Linked DNA regions of Homo sapiens: region 1 is linked to region 2. Evidence: fine-mapped expression QTL. A gene starts in region 2. The other region holds a variant in brackets. All regions are shown on one strand. Distances are from middle to middle.

Region 1 (5,306 bases), 140 kb after region 2:
AGGGGGAGGGTCTGCTGTGTGCGACCCATCTTGCTCCGAAAGTCCCAGTAAAGGGGCATAGTGGATGTCTCATTGTGCCCAGGGAGCTGAAACTGCCCCTGTGATGATCAAATGTGATTCTGGCACAGCCTGGACTGGCTGGGCACCTGAAGGCCTTGCCTGCCTCCTGGAGGCATCTCCTGGGTGCCTGTGGGAGTGGCTCTTTACTTGCCCTTCCTCTTGACTCTGCCCTTCCTCGACCTTCAAGGTTCTCATCCTATTCCTTTTGATCCTCGGCCTGAATCAGTTACTCAGGCCCTGGAGTCAAAGAGACTTGAGGCGGGATTCTGTTCTGCATGGCTTAACCTCTTTGAACTCAGAATTCCGTTTTCCTCTCAGAATCTCCCTGGCCTCCACCCTCTACCTCAAGAACCAGGGGCTGAACCCCGGCCCTGCCTGTCTTTGCCAAGCCTTGCTCTAGGGCTTGGTCAGCCTCGAGGAAGGGGGGCCTTGTTATGTTTATTTAAAAATTTATGTTTTAGGTTTTACTTTCTTAGAAGTGGAGGTCTTGATGTTATCTCCCAGGCTGGTCTTGAACCCCTTGGCTCAAAGGATCTGCCTACTTCAGCCTCCCAAAGTGCTGGGATTATGGGCGTGAGCCACCACGCCTGGCGCCTTTTTATATTTCTTTCTTTTTTTTTTCTTTTTTTGAGACAGAGTTTGTCTCTTGTTGCCCAGGCTGGAGTGCAATGGCGGGGTCTCGGCTCACTGAAACCTCCGCCTCCTGGGTTCAAGCGATTCTCCTGCCTCAGCCTCCCGAGTAGCTGGGATTACAGGCATGCACCACCACACCTGGCTAATTTTGTATTTTTAGTAGAGACGGGGTTTCTCCGTGTTGGTCAGGCTGGTCTCAAACTCCTGACCTCAGGTGATCCACCTGCCTCAGCCTCCCGAAGTGCTGGGATTACAGGCATGAGCCACTGCACCTGGCCCCCTTTTTATGTTTCTAACAGCACGTCCCAGCCGAGACCCTGGTGTTCACCCTTGCCTCATCTCTTGCCCTCACTTGCACATCCATTCCATCAGCATGTCCAGAGAAATTAAAGTCATTATCAGACCGTGCCACTCCCGTGCCTGGAACATTCTAGCAGCTCCCCACTGCACTGGATGCTCCTGGAACCCCTTTACTGTGGCCCTCAAGGCCTGTGACTTCTCCCCTATGCCCCACCTGTGGCCGCACCCACTTGCCCTCTGAGGTATGATATGGAATATATTTGGTCTTTGCGCCACATGTCATAGGAGTGATAGGTGTGTCTTTTAAAATTCATAATGAGCCCCTTTTGATCACAGCTGAGTTTATGCTTATGAGGTGATTTAGGATGGGGCTCCTAGATAGCCCAGGATGGGGCTGGTTACCAGAAAGACCAAGTGCTTAGAGGGTGGCATGTACGGAGGGGCCATTGAAGCTGTCTGTATTGCTTCCATCTGGTTGACCCCGAGTCGTATCCGTTATAATAAACCATTAATGGGAAGTGAAGTGCCTGCCTTAGTTCTGGGCGCTGCTTTAGCAAATCAATCAAATCGAGGAGGGGGTTGTGGGAATTCCCAATTTATAGGTGGCTGGGCAGAAGTACTGGACCCTGGGATGTGCAAATGGCATTTGTAGTGGGAGCAGTCTTATGGGACAGCTCTTTTTCTTTTAGAGACAGAGTGTCACTCTCACCCAGGCTGGAGTGCAGTGATACAGTCATAGCTCACTGCAGTGTCCAGCTCCTGGGCTCATGTCATGCTCCCGAGTAGCTGGGACTACAGGTGTGCACCACTGCCAGGCTTAGCTAATTTTTAAATTTTTTGTAGAGACAGGGTGCTATACTTCCTAGGCTGGTTTCAAACTCTTGGCCTCAAGCAGTCCTCCCACTTTGGCCTCCCAAAGCACTGTGCTTAGGTGAGCCCACTGCATCTGGCCGATAAAGTCCTTAACTTGTGGGAGATAGAGTCTGAATTGAGTTAAATTGTAGGACACCCAGCTGGTGTTTGGAGACTTGGAGAATTACTTGGAAAAGACCCACGCATCTGGTCACAGAATTGTTCTCGGTTATGAGAGTATAGTAGAAGAAAACTGGTTTTCTCTGAGTTGGTGTCAAAAGTGCTGTGTGAGAGTGTAGAGAAACGGAGTGTGGGCCAGGCA[C/T]GGTGGCTCACGCCTGTAATCCCAGCATTTTGGGAGGCTGAGGCGGGTGGATCACCTGAGGTCGGGAGTTTGAGACCATCCTGACCAACATGGAGAAACCTAGTCTACTAAAAATACAAAATTAGCTGGGCGTGGTGGCGCGTGCCTGTAATCCCAGCTACTTGAGAGGCTGAGGCAGGAGAATCACTTGAACCCAGGAGGCAGAGGTTGCAGTGAGCTGAGATCGCACCATTGCACTCTAGCCTGGGCAACAAGAGTGAAACTTCATCTCAAAGAAAAAAAAAAGAAACAGAGTGTGTTTTCCCACCTTCCCTGCTCCAGCCACACTGGCTGACTTGCTGTGCCTTGGAATATGCCAAGCACAGTCCAGGGCCTTTGCACTTGCTGTTCCTCTGTGGTAGATAAATAACCACATGGTGCCCATGTCACTACAGATCTCTGCTCAGACATCTTCATCACTGAGGTGTCCCAGGCTACCATAGAAGGAGTGCTTCTCATCTGTTAACCCTGCGAACCCTGCTTGATTAGATTTATAGCACTTCCACCCTCTATGTGACATTGTGTCTTTTTTTTTTTTTTTTCTCTTTGAGACAAGGTCTTGGTCTGTCACCCAGCGGGGAGTACAGTGGTGCAATCATAGCTCATGGCAGTCTGGACCCTCCCACCTTGGCTTCCCAAGTAGCTGGGACTACAGCCGCATGCCAGCTAATTTTTGTATTTTTCGTAGAGACGAGGTTTCACCGTGTTGCCCAGGCTGGCCTCAAATTCCTGGCCTCAAGTGATCGACCTGCCTCAACCTCCCAAAGTGCTGGAATTACAGGCGTGAGCCACCATGCCCACCCTGAATACTTTTTTTTTTTTTTTTTGGAGGGGGGAGATGGAGTTTTGTTCTTGTCGCCCAGGCTGGAGTGCAATGGTGCGATCTTGGCTCACTCCAACCTCCGCCTCCCGGGTTCAAGCGATTTCAATTTTCCTGCCTCAGCCTCCTGAGTAGCTGGGATTACAGGCGTGCACCACCACGCTTGGCTAATTTTTTTTTTTTTTTTTTGAGACGGAGTCTCGCTCTGTCACCCAGGCTTGAGTGCAGTGGCACAGTCTCAGCTCACTGCAACCTCCGCCTCCTGGGTTCAAGCGATTCTCCTGTCCCAGCCCCCACACCGAGTAGCTGGGATTACGGGCGCCTGCCACCATGCCGGCTAATTTTTGTATTTTTAGTAGAGATGAGTTTTAACCATGTTGGCCAGGCTGGTCTCAAACTCCTGACCTCAAGTTATCCACTCGTCTTGGCCTCCCAAAGTGTTGGAATTACAGGCATGAGCCACCAAGCCTGGTCCTAATTTTTTTATTATTAGTAGAGATGGGGTTTCACCATGTTGGTCAGGCTGGTCTCGAACCCCTGACCTCAGGTGATCCACCTGCCTCGGCCTCCCAAAGTGTTGGGATTACAGGCATGAGCCACCACGTCCGGCCCTGAATACTTTTTTTTTTTTTTAATATAACACTTCCACTTTCTATGTGACATTGTGTCATGTTTGGCTATTTCTGTCACTCTGCTGTCCACTCCTCCAGGTAGGAATTGTGTTGTTCTCTGCCAGATGCCTGGTGTTTGGAACCAGCTTGGTGCATTCAGCGCTGTTCGTATTTGGGGGTAGTCATCAGTAAGTCCTCTGCTGTGGCGGTGGGGAAGGCCTGTCACGAGTGACACTGGGCAGGTATGGATTCTGCATCTCCCTGCCCACTCTTGGCCTTTGCATGCCTCTGTTGTGGGGACTCCTCTTGCCGTCTCCACACAGTGTCACTCCTCACGCTCAGTGTTGCGTATATAGCTGATAACACAGCAGACCCGGTGGTGGCGCAGGACATCCATCCAGTGGGCCTCGGCCAGCCGAAAAGAAAGAATAGGGGCCGGGCACAGTGGCTCACGCCTGTAATCCCAGCACTTTGGGAGGCCAAAGTGGACGGATCATCGGCTCAGGAGTTTGAGACTAGCCTGGCCAACATAGTGAAACCCCATCTCTACAAAAAATACGAAAATTAGCTGGGCATGGCGGTGTGCGCCTGTAGTTCCAGCTACTTGGGAGGCCGGGGCAGGAGAATTGCTTGAACCCGGGAGGCCGAGGTTGCGGTGAGCTGAGATTGTGCCACTGCACTCCAGCCTGGGTGACAGAGCCAGAGTCCATCTACAAAAAAAAAAAAAAAGAATGGGGTTATTGATGTTCCACAGGGAGCGTGGGTCAGGATGGATTTGTGACACTTGATGCGGTTACTCTGCGTGTTATGTTTCTGCTGGGTCACATTGTCACATGGAGACATGATCAGAAGAGCTTGAAAAACATCCATCTAATTGATAGCTAGGATAGCATTTGCAGGCTTGCAGTGTAGACACCACACGTCCCTGTGGGGTTAGAGGACACTCCCCTAAGGCAGAGAACCGTCCTGGATGCTTTTAGGTCCCTTGGGTAGGTGCTCTTAAGCGGTTTTCTTTTTTTTTTTTTGAGACGGAGTCTCGCTGTCACCCAGGCTAGAGTGCAGTGATGCAATCTTGGCTCACTGCAAGCTCCGCCTACCAGGTTTACACCATTCTCCTGCCTTAGCCTCCCGAGTAGCTGGGACTACAGGCCCCCGCCACCACGCCCAGCTAATTTTTTTTTTTTTTTTTTTTGAGACAGAGTCTTGCTCTGTCACCCAGGCTGGAGTGCAGTGGCATGATCTTGGCTCACTGCAAGCTCCGCCTCCCGGGTTCACACCATTCTCCTGCCTCAGCCTCCCGAGTAGCTGGGACTACAGGCGCCTGCCACCACGCCCGGCTAATTTTTTGTATTTTTAGTAGAGACGGGGTTTCACCGTGTTAGCCAGGATGGTCTCGATCTCCTGACCCTCGTGATCCACCCGCCTTGGCCTCCCAAAGTGCTGGGATTACAGGCGTGAGCCACCGCGCCCGGCCTGGAGGTTTTCTTATAGACCACCGAGGGGAACATTTTGTTTTGTAGTTCACGCATAGTAAACGGGGCTGGCTCTGCGGAAGCCATCCTGCCCATTGCTGTTGTTCCGCCCAAGCCTCTGCCATAACCTGACTCCCACGTTGGTCTGCTGCTGAAATGTGTCCGTGAACAAATTTCCCCAAGCCCCAAAAAACACA
Region 2 (5,314 bases):
CTGAAGCAAGATTACACCTGTAATCCAAACACAGGAGGATCACTTAAACCCAGGAGTTCAAGACCACCCTAGCCAACATGGTGAAACCTCGTCTCTACAGAAAACAAAAAATTAGGCATGGTGGTGCACACCCGTAGTCCCACTGAGGTGGCAGGATTGCTTGAGCCCAGGAGTTTGAGGCTGCAATGGGCTATGATCACACCACTGCACTCCAGCCTGAGTGACACAGCAAGACCTTGCCTCGCCGTAGCTCACACCTGTAATCCCAGAGCTTTGGGAAGCCAAGGCAGACAGATCCCCTGAGGTCAGGAGTTCGAGACCAGCCTGGCCAACATGGTGAAACCCTGTCTCTACTAAAAATACAAAAATTAGTCAGTCAGGCGTGGTGGCACAGCTATTCAGGAGGCTGAGGCAGGAGAATTGGCTGAACCTGGGAGGCAGAGGTTGCAGTGAGCTGAGATCGTGCCACTGCAATCCAGCCTGGGTGACCAAGAGAGATCTGTTAGAAAATAAATAAATAAGTAGTTAATTAAAATACTAATAAATGTACAGAACATATTTGCTTGTGGTTAAGAGCATAGTTGCTGAAACCAGCATGGGTTCAATACCAACTCTGCTAGTTGGTCTGTGTGGCCGTGAGTTGCTCAGCCATCTTGTATCTCACTTTCTCCACCTGTAAAATGGGGATGACTTGAGCACAGGGTCTGCTTCACAAGGTGGTTTGGAGATTTACGGTATGAGTTATTTATGATATGAGTTCCTTAAACCTTTACACCAGGGTTTATACCTAGAAATGAACTACTTTTTTTTTTTTTTTTTTTTTTGAGACGGAGTTTTGCTCTTATTGCCCAGGCTGGAGTGCAATGGTGCGATCTCGGCTCACTGCAACCTCTGCCTCCCAGGTTCAACTTCCACCTCCTGGGTTCAAGTCATTCTCTGGCCTCAGCCTCCTGAGTAGCTGGGATTACAGACGCCCGCCACCACACCCGGCTAATTTTTGTATTTTTAGTAGAGACGGGGTTTCACCATGTTGGCCAGGCTGGTCTCAAAACTCCTGACCTCAGGTGATCCACCCGCCTCAGCCTCCCAAAGTGCTGGGATTACAGGCGTGAGCCACCGTGCCCGGCCTGAAATGAACTACTTATTTTAAGAGCTGCTACTCTTACTATAATTCAGTTGGAGGGCACAACTACGGAGGGGAGGCTGGGTCAGCCCAAGGGGGGCACCCCAGGTGAATCCTAGAGATCTGGAAGGAGTGGCCCCAGCGCAGCCTGGACACACCTTGATGTCCTCCATTTTAACATCCAGCATCTCCTCGGGCTCCACAGCCTCTGCCCATCCTTCGACCTCCTCGTCATCCTGGAGGCTGTCAAAGATCAGTTCAAAGAACACCAGCTTCTCGGAGATGGTGCTGAAGGAGTTGTCAAAGCACAGCTTGTAGTCCCCGGCCTCCGTTGGCTCCACCCTGGGCAGACAGACACACAGACATGACCCAGGGTGGCCAGCCAGCCGACTCAGCGGGGCAGTCAGGGCGGTAACCTGAGGCCGCCTGGGAAGGGCAGGGCTGTAACTGAACCCAGGCAGGCATCAAGACTGAACTCACGTGTGTACCCCATCAGCCTTGCGGGACTCGCTGACCAACAGCACGCCCTGAGGGCTCTCCAGCGTGAAGTCCACGTCCAGTCCAGCACCTCCGATCACCTGGGGGGCAGGTAAGAGCGGGTGGAGGGCTAGCGGTAGGCCAAGGGCGCCTGCCGAAGAGGGCTACGGCTGAACCAACACTGATCAATACAGACCACCAAGGGCTTACCTGAACGGCGGCACACCCACACCCGCCCCAACCTGTCCCAGTGGCTGCGCCCCTTGCCTCCACCCTCATTGATATGACAGCTTGGGGTCCATACTTTCAGCTGACCACGCACCTACCAAAAGTACTTAATGGACGTTTACCTGACCACGCCCCTGGTTGGCTCCGCCTCCGAAAGAGGATAGGCCCAGCCTTTTTCCTTAGTCTAACCCCCGAGAAAGGCCTGTGTGGGCAACGCCCCCGCAGTTGACCTATCAGCACTATCGCCACGCCCACCAGCCAGAGTCCTGTCCTCTCAGAGGCTCCCTATACTTATCGATGGCCCCGCCCCCTCTGGATCTCTTACTCTAGCCCCGCCTGCTTCATTACTCCCTCCCCTTCCGCTCCCACACACCGTCCCCGCCCCATCTGTCCATCTCTTTCTAGCTCCGCCCCCGCGCTCCCAAGCACGGATTCCTCCCCCTTCCTCCTAAAGCGCGCCTCGCCTCGACCGCTTGGCCACGCCCCCTCTCCCTGACTCTGCTGGCCGCCCAGCCCGCGACCCTCTACCTGGTATTCGGTCTCGAGGCTTGCGTTGGCCGGCGCGGACTGGTAGAAACACTGCTTCCTCCCCGCCGGCAACAGGAACGTGAACTCACCGTCCTGGATTGGCGGGGGCCCCGCCCCTCCCACCTCCACTGGTGGCATTAGTAGCCACAAGGCCAGGGCTAGGGCCGCGCCGGCCGCCATCATCCGGGTCACCCTCTGGTCTGCAAAGGGGTCGCGGCTCCTTTAAGCGCTAGCCCTGCCCCGGTGCTACTCGGCGGAGCTCATTGGCAGTGGCTTCTGTATGTTGTCCGTAACCAGAGGTGCCAGGAGTGAAGGACCCCCCCACTAGAGGGCAGGCGGCCCGAATGAATGCCTGATGTGCCCAGAAACACTCAACCGTCTGGGAATATTTTTCTCAAAGGCTTCGGCTCTCTTCTCGGCCGCTGGTGGAGGAAAATTACAAAAATAAGTGCCATGATGGCGCATCTTTTGTAGGCAGTAGCTAAGACAACTAAAGTTACAGGCGGCAGGGTCCTTTTTAGTCACCTCCACGTGGTTTTCCCAGAGTGCGCCGCGCGTGACAACCTTTGGCGGGACCGACGTGGTGGAGTGGACCCAAAAATAGCGTCTAGGCGTGGCCCTGTACGCGACCCGTAGGGCTCGCCTATAAAAGGGCTGGGGCGGGGCGGAGATACCTGTGGCGTCGTGTTTTGCTTGCTCTGTGAGCGTGGTCCAGGTTCGACGCCTTTTGCGCCTTAGAGGCATCAGCGTATCAGTTTCCTCGTAAGTCGGGAGTGATGGAACGACCACCCTGTAGTGCGGCTGTGAGAATTGAGATGAGGCTTGGTTCATATTGAGTGCTCAGCTTTCCTGGCTTATAGACAGTGGAGGGGCGTGGCCCCACCATGCACCCCAAGGGTCTCAGACTCAAGGGCCAGCAGGTAAATAGAGCCATTACAGTAGCCTCGGGTCAGAAAAACGACAGCCCAGGTAGGAAGAGATAAGGACAGTGTGGGACTGGGAGCCACGTTGCCTGGTTCAGCTCCTGCCCCACCCATTACTTGAGGCATTCCCTCTGTTGAGCCTCAGTTTCCTCTTCTGCAAAATGGGGATAATAGGCCTACGCTACTGGGCTGTCTTTAGGATACGTGAAATGCTTGTTGAGTGCTTGCTTCCGCAGTGCGTGGGACATCACAGGCCCTCAGTAAATAATAATCTGTTATTTGGTTCCCGTCTAAACATAAACTGTGTACAGGGAGATGTTTAGTCTTCAAAGATAAACCCGGAAAAGGTTGGCAGGTGATGACAAAGATCCCTCAAATACAGCTGGCTGTTGTCAGCACTTTCCTGCATTTGGAGAATTTGGGGAAGTAGCTCTTTGTAATATCAGTTTGGTATTCCTTTTCACTCCAACTTTTTCTATCATTTACACTCACTGCTTGGACAATTTGAAGTAACAGTGGAGAACGGGTGACTCCTTTTCTTTTTTTTCTTTTTTTTTTTAATTTTTTTTTCCTTTTTTTTTTTTTTTTTTTTTGAGACAGAGTCTCCCTCTGTTGCCCAGGCTAGAGTGCAGTGGCGCGATCTCGACTCACTGCAACCTCCGTCTCCTGGGGTTCCAGCGATCCTCCTGCCTCAGCCTTCCGAGTAGCTGAGACTACAGGCACGTGCCACCACACCTGGCTAATTTTTTGTATTTTTAGTAGAGAGGGGGTTTCACCATGTTAGCCAGGATGGTCTCGATATCCTGACCTTCTGTTCCATCCACCTCGGCCTCCCAAAGTGCTGGGATTGTAGGCGTGAGCCACTGCACCCGGCCGGATTTTTTTTAGGACAGGGTCTTGCTCTGTTGCCCAGGCTGGGGTGCAGTGACGCCATCATGGCTCACTGCAATCTCTACCTCCTGGGCTCAAGTGATTCTCCCACCTCAGCCTCCTGAGTAGCTGGGACTACAGGTGTACACCTCCATGCCTAACTAATTTTTTGTAGACATGAGGTTTCCCTGTGTTGCCCAGGCTGGTTTCAAACTCCTGGGCTCAAGCCATCTGCCTGCTCCCTCACCCTCCCAAAGTGTTGGGATTACTAAAATTGATTTTTTTAAATACAGTAAAATTCACATTGCATAAAATTAACAATTTTAAGGCCGGGTGTGGTGGCTTACACCTGTAATCCCAACACTTTTGGAGGCCAAGGCAGGCGGATCATGAGGTCAGGAGATCGAGACTATCCTGGCTAACACAGTGAAACCCCGTCTCTACCAAAAATACAAAAAATTAGCCAGGCGTGGTGGCGGGTGCCTGTAGTCCCAGCTACTCTGGAGGCTGAGGCAGGAGAATGGTGTGAACCTGGGAAGCGGAGCTTGCAGTGAGCCCAGATGATGCCACTGCACTCCAGCCTGGGCGACAGAGCAGGACTCCGTGTCAAAAAGAAAATAAAAATAACCATTTTAAAATTAACAATTCAGTGGCATTTAGTACATTCCAGTGTTGTGCAGTGACTTCTATGTAGTTCCAAAACATTTTCATCGGCTCAGTAAAGATCCCTGTACCCATTAAGCAGTGATTCTGAAACGGCCTCGTTGTCTTGAGTAACACCCGGGGTCGTTGTCTCACAGCCACGAAGAACAAGGACCAGGACACACAAAAGAATGAGGTTGAGAACGAACGTTTAATAGGCAACGGAGAGTATAGCTCTCTGCTACAGAGAGGAGTCCCAGAAAAATGGGTTGCTGGTCCATAGCAAAATACAGGGGGGTTTATAGATGAGCTGGTGAGGAGACTTAGCCTGATTTACATAGGGGATGAAAAACTGGTTAGAACAGGTGTGCCATTTGCATAGGGTGTGAATTTCTGGTATCTGCTAATCTTTTATTATGCAGCCGGGGTCTCTACCTGAGCTGTGCCACATCGCCCATTTCTTTTTCTTTTTTTTTCTTTTTTTTTTTTGAGACAGAGTCTTGCCCTGTCACCCAGGCTGGAG

Direction of the effects. Alleles are on the strand shown, and positions count from the first base shown. SD is a standard deviation of normalised expression in the study named.
For the expression in whole blood of the gene that starts at base 2,560 in region 2, allele T in region 1 goes with a lower level than allele C (large effect, 1.6 SD a copy in Lepik 2017).

What was found. PIP is the estimated chance that this variant, and not a neighbour inherited with it, causes the effect. A credible set is the group of variants that fine-mapping cannot tell apart.
Region 1: its variant is the best candidate, but not a certain one, in a credible set for the expression of TMED1 in whole blood (Lepik 2017, PIP 0.62).

The regions. Positions count from the first base shown.
Region 1 is chr19:10,968,759-10,974,064 of GRCh38, forward strand. All of the region lies in intron 1 of SMARCA4 (SWI/SNF related BAF chromatin remodeling complex subunit ATPase 4), which reads left to right. Among named protein-coding and RNA genes, the nearest start is that of SMARCA4, 10 kb to the left of the region's middle. RefSeq lists an enhancer at 4,531-4,580. The variant C/T (reference allele first, on the strand shown) is at 2,168.
Region 2 is chr19:10,833,653-10,838,966 of GRCh38, forward strand. It overlaps TMED1 (transmembrane p24 trafficking protein 1), which reads right to left and starts at 2,560. Exons shown (of 4, transcript NM_006858.4): 1 at 2,357-2,560; 2 at 1,604-1,701; 3 at 1,282-1,465. The coding sequence starts at 2,539. It also overlaps a transcript of C19orf38 not described here. RefSeq lists enhancers at 1,058-1,695, 2,333-2,969, 2,735-2,834.